2 linked regions of the Homo sapiens genome follow. The protein of the gene in region 2 purifies or fractionates together with the protein of the main gene of each other region. This does not show direct contact. Each region holds a gene or a part of one and is shown on either strand. Other genes may lie near its edges.

Region 1 (8,227 bases), on a different chromosome or scaffold from region 2:
CACAACAAAAAATACTAATAAACAAAGCATGTTTCCCAAACCTGGTCCTCTTTCGATGTTCTCTACCTCGGTGAAGGGTGCAACAATCCTTCCAGTTATATAAGCCAAAAACCTAAGATTAGCCCATGATATCTTCCTCTCCCTCACCTTCCATATCTAATCCATCGCCTAGTTCCACCTCCTGAACACCTCTGGAATCCATCTTACCACCACCACCTTGTCCAAAATACCATCTCTCAATTGGGCCACTCCAACAATCTTCTAACTGGCCTCTCCCCATCCCCACTCTTATCCCCTCTGTAATCAGTTCTTCCTCTGTGTAACATCAAGTCCTTTTTTAATAGCATTTACCACAGTTGTAACTTTAAATTTCTTTGACTATTTGATTTATGTCTGCCTCCTCTGTTAGTAAATTCTATGAGGGTAAACACCGTATTTACTCACTACTATACCACTGTGGCCTAGAAGAGTGTCTAGTTAATAAATAAATGCTAAATGATTGAATGCATGTCAAATATTACAATTTTACTTATATATAGTCCAAAAAATAAAAATAAAGTGCTTTATAAGGCTCACCAATTATTCTATATCACAGATTTTCACTTGTTTTTTTTTTTTTTGAGACAGGGTCCTAATTTCTACCTACCAATCCCTAACCACTATTTAAATTCCACATTAGATCTCATCTTCATGAAACATTCCCTAGTTATCTCTCTTCTCACCTTTAACATTCTAAAACACTCCCGTAAAATCTAATACATATTGACTATATTTTCTGCTTCTTGAAGGGAAAGTTTACATCTCATACATTCTGCTAGAGTATAAGCTCCCTAAGAGCAGGGACTTTTCTTGTTCACTCTATATCCCCAGCACCTTGAAGAGTGTCTGGTATGAATAGCTGCTCAGTAAGCATATGTTGATTTAACGCTCTTTATATATTTCAGGATAGAGCACAGATCCTTGCAGCTGTTGTACAGTGGGAAGAGTCGAAAAGAACTGAATTAATTTCCTTAAATTCTTCAAGCTTCAGTTTTTTCATCTGTTAAATGTAAATAATACTCAATAGCTTAGTTGGAATAACTGCGCTAATGCTTTAAAAGTATCTATGCAGAGCTGAGGACAAGAGGATACTCTTACAAACAAATGTTTTGGTGATTTTGTGACAATAGTTAAATAGTAAGTAGTCACTAAATTCCTACTAAATGAATAAAATCTCAGGAAAAATATTAAAAGATTGAGTAATGGCTACCGTATCATTTTTTTCAATAAAAAATTATATGAGTAAATTTATTCTGAAATATATTTCGCCCCAAATCTTAAGCATGGCTGAAACCATTTCAGCATTTTGTGCATTAATTAGGAATAATCCCAATTTAACATTGTACCAGTATTAATATTTATATTTTACTGACATGTATAGATCATACTTGATAGCTTAAAAAAGAATGATAATCTTAGTATAAGAACCTCTTTAGTGCAATAATTGGAATAGAAAACGAGCTGCAAACTCATTTGAGTTACGTGGTTCCCCAGAAAGCCAGAAAATTTCTGCCTTTTTATAAAACATTAGTGAACAGAATACGATGCTGTTCACCAGAACCATCAAAACATCTAGAAATACTTCATAACCAATCACCATAAATACATTTTTCCAAATACTTGAATCCTATTTTAAAGAAAAAGAGCATTAATTAAATGGCTTTTAATGACTTTTTGCTAAATTATACAATTCTTTAGATGGGCCACTTTTTGACATGTGGTTCTAAAAATTTTATAGCGAATGAACTGGTAATTCAATATAGCCTCAGATTATTGGACTAAATAGAAACTCTTCCTGTTCAAAGAAGAAGCTTTATCAATTTGAAACTCAGAAAATACATAGACTTTACCTTTCAAAGCCTTTCCACTCCCTCTGGGTATTCTCAATGGCTCATAATCTAATTACAAGTCACAAGCAAGCAAGAAGATCATTCCCTTGTCTCTTTCTGCCATCAACTGACACAAAATCATTGCCAAAAACCCACCGGGGACATATGGTCCGAGCAGGAAAACATAAGAAAACTCCTAAGTAATTCGGATATAAAAAGATGTAAGACGAGGTATTCTTCTGTAACTATAGGGTAGCAGTGAGCCCCATGTGGGTAAATAACCAATACAAAACGAAAAGGTAAGCCAAAGAAATCACAAGAAATATAAACTCAATAAGCAGTGATGCTGAGTTGACCGCTGAAGGTTCTCATATATGAATATAGTCATCATATGTAAGAATTTATTCTACACCTCCAACCTCAAAAGCCCTTAGATGTGGGTAGGGTTGGGAGAGTTCACGGTGAGCGGGAACCAAATGAAGTGAATGAACGTTAATATTTAGATGGAAAGGCATTAATATATGCAAGGCAGTGTGTTATGGCTTGAAGCAGTAACAAACACCAAAAAGGGAGAAAGAGGCTAGGAATGAGAACAGAGAGACAGTGGGGATCCAGTTATTATTATTATTTCCCTTTTTTTATTTTTTAAACGAGGAAAAACAGGGCCGACAGAGCACTGGCATGAGGAGGGGTCAAATGGATGCGATAGATCAGGGGAAAGAGTCTTGCCTGCAACATCTAAGAAAACCACAAGGAAAGGAGGAACAGCTGCCCACAGTTAGGCTTACGGTTTATCTCTGCAACCCAGGACAAAGCGAGGAAGAGTTAGAAGACAAATGACACTAGAAAGGAGAGACAAGGAAGGCGCCAAAACCCTCAGAGAACCCAGATGGTTGGCCACAGGGTCTTCACTGAAGGCGGACCCCCGCAAGAAACCCAGTCATTCGGGGACCAGAGACGCTAAGTCCCAAACTTCTTGACTCCTTTAGCCTCAAGCCGATCCCTCACCGAAAGAGAAGGACTGGAGAACTGTAAAAATGTGCAGGAGCCACCAACCCGGCAAATGCTCCAGCTCTAGCAGCAGCCGCCACAAAACCAGCCCGCACACACGCAGACGTTCCGACCTCAGCGCCGCAGCTACAGGTACTTTGAGCACCCCGGCCACCGTAGTAAGAGGAACCGCCTCCGCGTCAAATCCAACAGATCAGCCACTTCCGGGATACGAAAGCCTTGCGATTGGCAGTAGCGATAGCAGCGGCGTAAAGGCCTCTGCTATGCTTACTTTATCCATCCCTTTTTCCCACCTGTTCGCCACCCCAAGCCGCTAATCCACCAATGCAGCAAGCGCAGAACCAAGAGAAAGTATCCGTCTGTGAGCATTGTCTCTCTGATAGACAAACCACATTACGGCTGCCATAAATTCCTCTCGAGCACTTGGACTTCAACTACCAGCAGGCCATGCAGCATCACGCCCTTGCCTCTGGCGTAGGAACTGCAAGATCCAGCATGCATTGCGGCCCTCCTTCCTCGCACTCAGGACCAAGATAGAGCCAACCCAAGCCTCACTTTGATTTAAAAAAAAAAAAAAAAAAAAAGCCAGGATGCCTTCTTTTCCTGTTGTGAAGGAACTCTAAGCCAAGCCATTATTAGGACTGTAGGTTATTTATAAAACATCAAGGGATATGTGCACTCATTTTCCATATTCAGATTATTTTCAAGCATTAAAACACAGGACAGTCGGGCGCGGTGGTTCGCGTCTGTAATCCCAGCACTTTGGGAGGCCGAGGCGGGTGGATCGCTTGAGGTTGGGAGTTCGAGACCAACCTGGCCAACATGGTGAAAGCCCGTCTCTGTTAAAAAATTAAAAAATTAGCCGGGCGTGGCGGCGGGCGCCTGTAATTCCAGCTACTCGGGAGCCTGAGGCAGGAGAATTGCTTGAACCCGGGAGGCAAAGGTTGCAGTGAGCAGAGATCGCGCCACTGCACTCCAGCCTGGGCGACAGAGCGAGGCTTTGTGGGGAAAAAAAAAAAAAAAAGAAGGAAAAGAAAAAGAAAGAAAGAAAAAAGGACGGTCCGAAGATGCTTTTTATAACGTGGAAATTTTTGGCCAGGCGCGGCGGCTGACGCCTGTAATCCCAGCATTTTGGGAGGCCGAGGCGGGCGGATCACTTGAGCCCAGGAGTTCCAGACCAGCCTGGCCAACATGGTGAAATCCCGTCTCTACTAAAAATATAAAAAATTAGCCGGGTGCGGTGGCGCGCGCCTGTAGTCCCAACTACTCAGGAGGCTGAGGCGGGAGAATCGCTTGAACTCGGGAGGCGGAGTTTTCAGTGAGCCAAGATTGTGCCTCTGCACTCCAGCCTGGGCGACAGAGCAAGACCCTGTCTCAAAAAAGTAAAAATAAATAAATAAATAAATAAATAAGTGGAAATTTTTATCTTCACTCCTAAATGATGTCAAGAGAAATACTGTTACTGTAAAATGTAATCCTATGCCGTTTTACAGTACCGCAGATTTTGTTGGAGCAAGGACTACCAGACATGCTTCTGAATTACATAGGAAATTATACTAAAAACTAAAAATAAAATATGAAGTCTATGCCACCGGACTATGAAACCACATGGGAATGAAAACCTTCAAGAATGAAGAGTTGAAAAGTTCAAAATTAAACTTGAAATTTTTTCAATTTTTTAGTGGATTTGGTGGTTTAAATTTTTTTTTATTCTCACAGAAACAGGTAGCTGGATCTATTTATTTTTTATTCATGTACTTGGACAGCTAAATAACAAAACAACAAACAAAGGATATGATAAGATCACAAATGGCACACTTATTAGAGTGAGCAAAGTAGTTTTCTTGCATGATTCCATAGCTTGTGGTTTCCTGTTTCGAAATCCCCAAACTCTGTTTTGATTTTTTTTAGGAGAGAGAGCATGCATCTAACAAGCTGTTTAGATGCCTTTTTGTAACTTTCATAAAGACCTGGATTACAAGAATGCATGTATTTTATTTTTGGTATTGTGCATTAACAGGCCATGAGAAACAATGCTTGGATTCTTAAAATAACTATATATACAAAAGTAAATTGTGTGTATACTACAGACTTGGGTTTTCTGTAGATTTGCCACAACAAATTTTAATTGGTTAGAAAAAAAGGAGTAGAGTACCTTTCCTTTTTACAACTTCACACAGAAATCACAGGAGGAAACTATATTCTGCAACACTGACATGGCATCAGCTGTCATACAAACTGCTTTCCAACTCTAGTGCGTTAAATTATGCAGCGCTAGCAAGTAAATATTTAAAATCTATGATCATGGAAAATAATCTGCTGTTTTCCATGCTCATGCACCAAAACAATATGAATGCAGTGAGAGAGGACATTTCCATTGGAATGATTCAAAGGTAATGTTGATAAACTATAATTAGGTTATCTGATATTCATAGGTGTTTGCCGTAAATAAACACAAAATTGCATCCACTTATTAGTGATGTTATTAAGGAAGCTTTAAAAATATGCTAAATATTTGATACACATATTTCTAAAGTCGTTTCCATGATCAATTGTGTAAATGAACATGGGAGTTTAAAGAGTACATAATTTATGTAATAGACTTTATGTTTTTTGAAGAGATTCTTACAGCTGCAGCACTCAGACAGAACATTCTCTCCTCTAAATGTGTCTTCACATTCCAATTCAGCCAATTGCCAACCATGCAAGAGTTAAAACTGAAGAAGCTGTTCGTTTTAGTTCAACAAAAATAGGATGAGTGCTACTAAGGGCAAGGCTCTCTGTCTGGGCACTATAAGCTGTTTATGAAACACTGATAGTTTTGGAAATTAGTTAAGATTTAAAGGGAAATTAAAAGCATACATGAGCTTTATCAGAATAGAAAACAAAGTAAATATGTGTAACACTGACTTTTAATAATCATCACACATTTGGTTAATTGAAACTTATAATAGCTAATATACCTTCTTAAAGGCAGGATCCGCATCTTAAACATCTGTGCCCCTCCCAGCTCTATGCACAGTACTTTGTGCAGAGTAACTGGCTCTCAATGAGTGTTTGTGGAAGTTCACAGTGATGACTAGGCTGGGTGCAGTAGCTCATGCCTGTAACCTCAGTACTTTGGGAGTCCAAGGCGGGTGGATCACTTGAGATCAGGAGTTCAAGACCAGCCTGGACAACATGGTGAAACTCCGTCTCTACTAAAAATACAAGAAAAATTAGCCAGGCGTGGTGGCGTGCGCCTGTAGTCCCAGCTACTCGGGAGACTGAGGCAGGGGAATTGCTTGAACCCGGGAGGCAGAGGTTGCAGTGATCCAAGATTACACCACTGCACTCCAGCCTGGGCGACAGAGCATGACTCTGTCTCAAAAAAAAAAAAAATTCACAGTGATGACCGAGGCCCCGAAACTGCCTTTTCATGAATACTGCGTAGTTTTAATGTAAGCTGTTTCTAACTCTTGTGCTTTATTTTTTTAATTAGTAATTCAGGTTGTATAATAAAATAACTATTAAAACCAGAATAATCAGAATGTCACATTCAATAATCATGAAAGCAACAATTTACATACACACACACACACACACACTGCTTAGTATATGTGTGTGCGTACTTGTGTATACGTGTGTGTGTGTGTGTACTTATATATAAAAAACACATTTATAATATATAGGTAACATTTATCTTAAGAGTCAAGCCCTTTCTAAAATGTCATCGTATTCCAGGCATATACTTTGAAAGTATACCAACCATTCTAATAGCATTGATTGTGAGGCAGCTCCAGATTTTTGTTAGGACACTTTTACTTCTTAACTTCTATCAAGTGTATTTCTTATCCATCTCCTTCCTGGACCAGGAAAAGATGAAGATTCTATTAAATAAATGTATACCATGAATGATTCATTGGGAATGTTATGTTAAGCGACATTGAACTCAGCCTGGATGGAATGAATACCTTGTAGACTTCTAAAGGCTAAAAAATTATTTTAAAGAACCCGGGAGGCGGAGCTTGCAGTGAGCCGAGATCGCGCCACTGCACTCCAGCCTGGGTGACAGAGTGAGACTCCATCTCAAACAAAAAAAATTAGAAAAAAGAAAACTTGGTGAAAACCTTTCCTCTTTTCCAAGTAATCTTATTTCTATCCCCTCTCTTATATCTTCAACCTCTTTCTCTCTCTCTCAACTATGCTCCCTTTACTTCAACAAACAAATGTGCACAGAATCACCATAATTGTGAAAGCACCTTCAGTGGACTCAGCTTTCCTGCTAAATGCAGTCACTCCCAATGCCCAGGCTAGAGTGCAGTGGTACGATCACAGCTCACTGCAGCCTCGACTTTCCAGGCTCAGGTGATTCTCCCACCTCAGCCTCCTGAGTAGCTGGGACTACAGGTACATGCCACCAAATCCGGCTAACTTTTTGAATTTTTTTGTAGAGATGGGGTTTCCCCACATTGGCCAGGCTGGTCTCAAACTGCTGGGCTCAAGAGATCCTCCCACCTCAGCCTCCCAAAGTGCTGGGATTACAGGCGTGAGCCACTGCACTCGGTCTGGTCTATTCTATCTTCTCTTTTTCCTTTCATAACCACACTTCATCAAGTGCTACAAAGTAAACCTTAGCCTTGACATGCAGCATGGGATCTCTTCACAGCAGCTAGTATTTACTGAACACCCACACCTATGCTGGAAATATAGACAGAATTCAGTAAGGAGCTTATGGTCCCTCAATACAATGTGATAAATGTTATGCTAAAAGTAAGGACAAGACTTTAAGAGAATGAAGAAGGTCAGTTACTCTCAAATTGAGTGAGGACCCTAGAGGAGGAAGTTCCCAAGATGATTTAAATGACAAAAATAAGAATTAACTAGCTGTAGAAGAGGGAGGTTCAGCCAGTTTAAGACAACCTGTAAATTCATTATAGCTGGAACAAGAGAGTGGGGTGAATAGTATGATATAAGGCTGGAAAGACAAACTGGAGCTATTTCACAAAAAGACTTTGTAGACCAGGCGTGGTGGCTCACGCCCGTAATCCCAGCACTTTGGGAGGCCAAGGTGGGTGGATCACCTGAGGTCAGGAGTTCGAGACCAGCCTGGCCAACATGGTGAAACCCCATCTCTGCTAAAAATACAAAAATTAGCCAGGTGTGCTGGTGGGCGCTTGGTAATCCCAGCTACTCAGGAGGCTGAGGCAGGAGAATTGCTTGAACCTGGGAGGAGGAGGCTGCAGTAAGCCAAGATTGCACCACTGCACTCCAGCCTGGGTGACAGAGGGAGACTCCGTCTCAAAAAAAAAAAAAAAAAAAAAAAAAAAAAAGACTGTATACTATGATACTAAGACTGTATACTTTAA
Region 2 (4,183 bases):
GTAGTGTTAAGTGTGTCCACTGGGAAGGAGCTTGCCAGGTAGGGGTAGCAAATGCACCCAGGCAGGAAGGCAAGAGGCCTCACCATGTTCAGAGAGTTGACTGGGCTGAAGATCAAGGAGTGAGGACAGGTGTGAGGATGGATTTTATATGCAGTCAGGATTCCCTGAAGAATTCTGTGATTTTTTTTTTCCAATTTGCATTTTAGAAAAACTACTCTGGTTGTAAGTGGAGAAGAGACTAGAGCAAAGTGAAGCTGCAGGTAGGAAGCCTGTGTGTCTGTCTGCTCCCTCAACCACCTCTGCCAACTTGGGGAAGCTCCCTCTAAGAGGAGGAGAGCTCAAATTGCAGAAGCCCAGGTGTCCTGGGAGAGATTAGCATTACAGGACCAGTATGGGGGTGGAGCTAGAAAGCACTCCTAATCTAAGCACTCTGGCACAGTGACACACCAGGGAAAAATGATTTTGCATATAGTTATTTGTATGTAATTCACATATACCATCTGTATCTTGGCAGCCCAGGTCTGAGTGGCACTGAGGGAACTGAGAGAAGGCTTATGCCTGGGACCCCATGGAGGCTTAAGGAGCAGAGTGAGGATAAGCCAGGACCACATGCACTGTAAGAGACAACAAGGTGGCCTGAGAGCAGAGGGTGGGTCTGTTTGCTCTTCAATATTTCCTCACCTCCTAGAAAACGGAGGAATCCACAGCAGACAGAATCGTTGTTTTGCAAATGCATTAGAAAGAATGCTTTTATCAGAAATAAAATGACTGTTCAGGAAAAGAAGAAAATGTCTTTATGCCATTATCCAGGATGGTAACTCTTCTCCTGTGCATACCTGAAAATGTCAGAGGTGCATTTTTACATTGGCATTTTAATAGATTGTATGACAAATTGTATGTTACAGGGCAATTCTTGGAAAAGTCAAACAAACCACATAATTTATAGTTTCCATTTTTACTGAATTTGTAATTCCAAGAAAATTGTTGGCTAGGAGGAGATTGGAAAACTGAATTCACATCAGATCCTAATGAGAAGAAATCAATTTTAACTAAGTGGGTGAATAGGAGTTGTATTATTTAATTAGCATATAATTTGAAAGAGTTCATTAGCTTCACAACAGGCACAATCAACACTTAGGTAAAGCACTTAATTGTTGCAAAACTTTAGAATACTGGTCTTGCATGTTCTTGACCTCTATGGCTGGTTTATTAAAACCTGAAAATCTTCCTTGATTCTTCTAAAGATTTCTCATCCATGGGAGGCTTCCTTGGGCTGCCAGGCTGTAGAAACTTCTTCACTGTGGGCAGGTTACTGATTCTGGTTTTCAGGGCCTGTAATCCACAAAGCACAGCCTCACTAAAACAACAAGTCAAGGGCTGACACCCCCATTAACATGACCCAGGGAATCTGAGTCCCTCCTGCCAAAGACCAAGTGAGTCGCTTCCACTTGGGTGAAGGCAGAAACAGACACCCAGTGAGAAAGGAAGATAAGAGGAAGAACATGTAGCTCACTTTATTTTCCCCAAAGATGTCTTGAAATTTTAATCAGTTCAGTCATCCCTATCTTTCTTCTTACATATTAATCCTATAGATTAGTGACTCTTGTATAAGACAAGAAAAACTAATGTGCTTGTTTGATATCAGCACAGATCAGTCTCTAAGCAGAAGTGAAAATATGGGAAAATGAGTTGGAAAGGAAAATGTTATAGAAAATAGTAAAGACAAACCATGGGACCACCTTTTCTCAGTGAGAGATACATTGTCGGGGGCAGAGTGCTGGAGAGCTGGGCAGAGAGGAACAAAATGTCTGACAGCAGGAGCCGGAGCCCAGGGAGGAAACCAGATGGAAAGGGCTCTGCTCAGACTGACTCAATGTGGGCACATATGGGATAAAGGACATCACAGAGAACTCAGGAACAGAAACCACACTGAAATAGAGGGATGGGGAGACATGCTGGGCCCTGGGTCCTTTCCATAATAAAAGGCAAAATACTCTTTGCGGGGTAGCATGCACTACAAATTTCCTTTCCATAACAAAAGTGTTTTCATTCCTCAAAATTGGAGCCTGGAAGCTCATTTTGGAGACCTTGGGGCACCAAAGGCCTGGAGAAGGCTGGGGTCAAAACATGCTCAGTCCCAGGGCCCAGATACAAGATCCCAAGATGGGAGATGTGGGTCTGCCTCTCTGAAGACTGTGAAATGGGTCACCTTCAGCAGAGGGAAGCTGGAAATAAGGCTAGAGTCAAGCTCTTCCACGTAGTAGAGAAGTTCCACCAGGTGAATGTCAGCCCGGCTCAGCTTGTTGCCAACAAGGTAGTCTTGTCCGTGGCTCTTTAAGACCTGGAGAATGGGAGGAATCAGATCAGGAACACATGCCCACCCAGGCTGGGACCCCTGCTTCTTTCAGAGCCTCTCCACCCTGACTTTCCCCACCTCTGTTGCCTTACTGCATGGATGCAGAAATCCCGAGCTTTCTCCACATTATCTGAATGAATGAGATAGTAAGAAGTGTAACTGTACTCACTCCTCAGTTGGAGCTCAGCCTCCCATTTTCTCTTCTCATCCACATCACTGTGGCGTCTACACTACCCACCCAGCTTGCTTCTTCCACATGGGCCAAGGGCTTAGCACCTGCCGCCGCATGTTCTGTCTGCCCCAGGCCCTGCAGTGTGGAGCCCTCACATTCAGGATGTGGCTCTACATTCTGCTGTCTCCCGCTCCAATCTCCCTTGGGCAGTGACTCCACCATCGTGACAACACTCTTCCCCCAGAAGGAGACTATTTCAGAGTCCTCATTTCTCCTTGTCTGTTCTCCTCATTCCCTGCTCTATCTCCCTGAGATCTGTAGGAAACCTGGGTGAACCTGAATTCATCATCTTTTTTACAGCATCGACTCTGGTTCCTAAATGGCACTATGTTATAATCTGCAAGCTGAAGCGTTTAGGAGTGAACTGCTCTGATGTCTGCAACTTACTATAAAATGCATTTTACAGAATCTTCCTCTGCATCCCACAGTCACTCTCCTTTTAAAAAATACTGATCCCTGAAACACTGCAATATTCTCTGGTTGGGCAATTGGTCTCCTGTCTTCCTGCATATGGTGCCAGAATGTTTTCTGATGGATCACTTTCATCATGCCCCTGTTCAAAGTCCATGGGGTTCCATAGACTGAACAGCAACTCTAGTGTGGTCCAGAGCCTTCCACAGCCCACATTCTACTTATGAACACAAAATTCTGTTGAACAGATAATTCCATATTGGGGTTCAGTAAATTAAAATTTTACTGGAAGATTATAGCTTGGGTATAAGTGATACAATTGTTTCTCCAAGTCTATTTTCATAAAATGCCTTGAGAGTCAGAGTGCTGCATTGGTGTCCAGGAAGTATCACTGAAAGTGAAGATCAGTGCCCCAGGAATGCCCAGCCACTATTTTTCTACTGGCTTCTAAACTCAGTTCCCCAAAACACTGAACAGCTTCACTTACTTTTTCAAAGGCAGGGAAGTAGCGATTTTTTGTTTTCTCTTGGATCAAGGCAAGCTTGGCATCTTGTTCCTCAGGTTGACTAAAGGGCAGAAGAAGGATCATTTCACCCAAATCTGCTATACCTTCTATATACATATCAATCCTGAAAGACAAAAACAACCAAATGGTCAAATATCTTTTGCCTTAGATTTTATAGGTTTATAAAAACCTAAGAGAGTAGAGTATCAGGTGATGGCAAAATAATTCACCTCCAATGAGTGCCTTTTATAGTCTAGTCATTATGCTCTGAGTTTTACAGGTATATAGTCATTATGCTCTGAGTTTTACAGGTATATTAACATTTATTTCTTAAAACAGCCTATCAAGGTAGATAGCTCTCTAAATTTTGTTACACGCATGACCTAATACAGGAAGAAGATCATCGGTGGTCACAGTCATGAGAGAAATTGGTGGAATCACTGCCAGTACCCACTGATGCTGTGCCAGGATTTATCATCTCCATTGTGGTTTGTTCTGTGCATGAACTTAGTGTGAGTCAAATGGCCAAAGACCTGCTTCCTAAGTAATCCTAAGAGAGTCCCTGGCACAGCCATCTCAGCCATATTCCTTGTCCTCTCTCATCATTTTACAGCTCCCAGGGCTGCTTCTATGCCCCATATTTGCAGTTCTTCCAATTACACCCATGAAAAACGTTTCC

What was found.
Region 1: the proteins of GSTA2 (region 2) and ATG4C purify together in Homo sapiens (affinity purification with mass spectrometry; 2 studies listed by BioGRID and IntAct, with this or other methods). This does not show direct contact.

The regions. Positions count from the first base shown.
Region 1 is NC_000001.11:62,778,923-62,787,149, reverse strand, and holds the start of ATG4C (cysteine protease ATG4C), read right to left. Parts: upstream 3,019-8,227; 5' UTR 2,877-3,018; intron 1-2,876. UniProt on the Homo sapiens protein: Cysteine protease that plays a key role in autophagy by mediating both proteolytic activation and delipidation of ATG8 family proteins.
Region 2 is NC_000006.12:52,749,368-52,753,550, forward strand, and holds the end of GSTA2 (glutathione S-transferase A2), read right to left. Parts: intron 3,629-4,183; coding exon 3,487-3,628; intron 2,342-3,486; coding exon 2,210-2,341; intron 1,333-2,209; coding exon 1,210-1,332; 3' UTR 720-1,209; downstream 1-719. UniProt on the Homo sapiens protein: Catalyzes the conjugation of glutathione to a large variety of electrophilic compounds.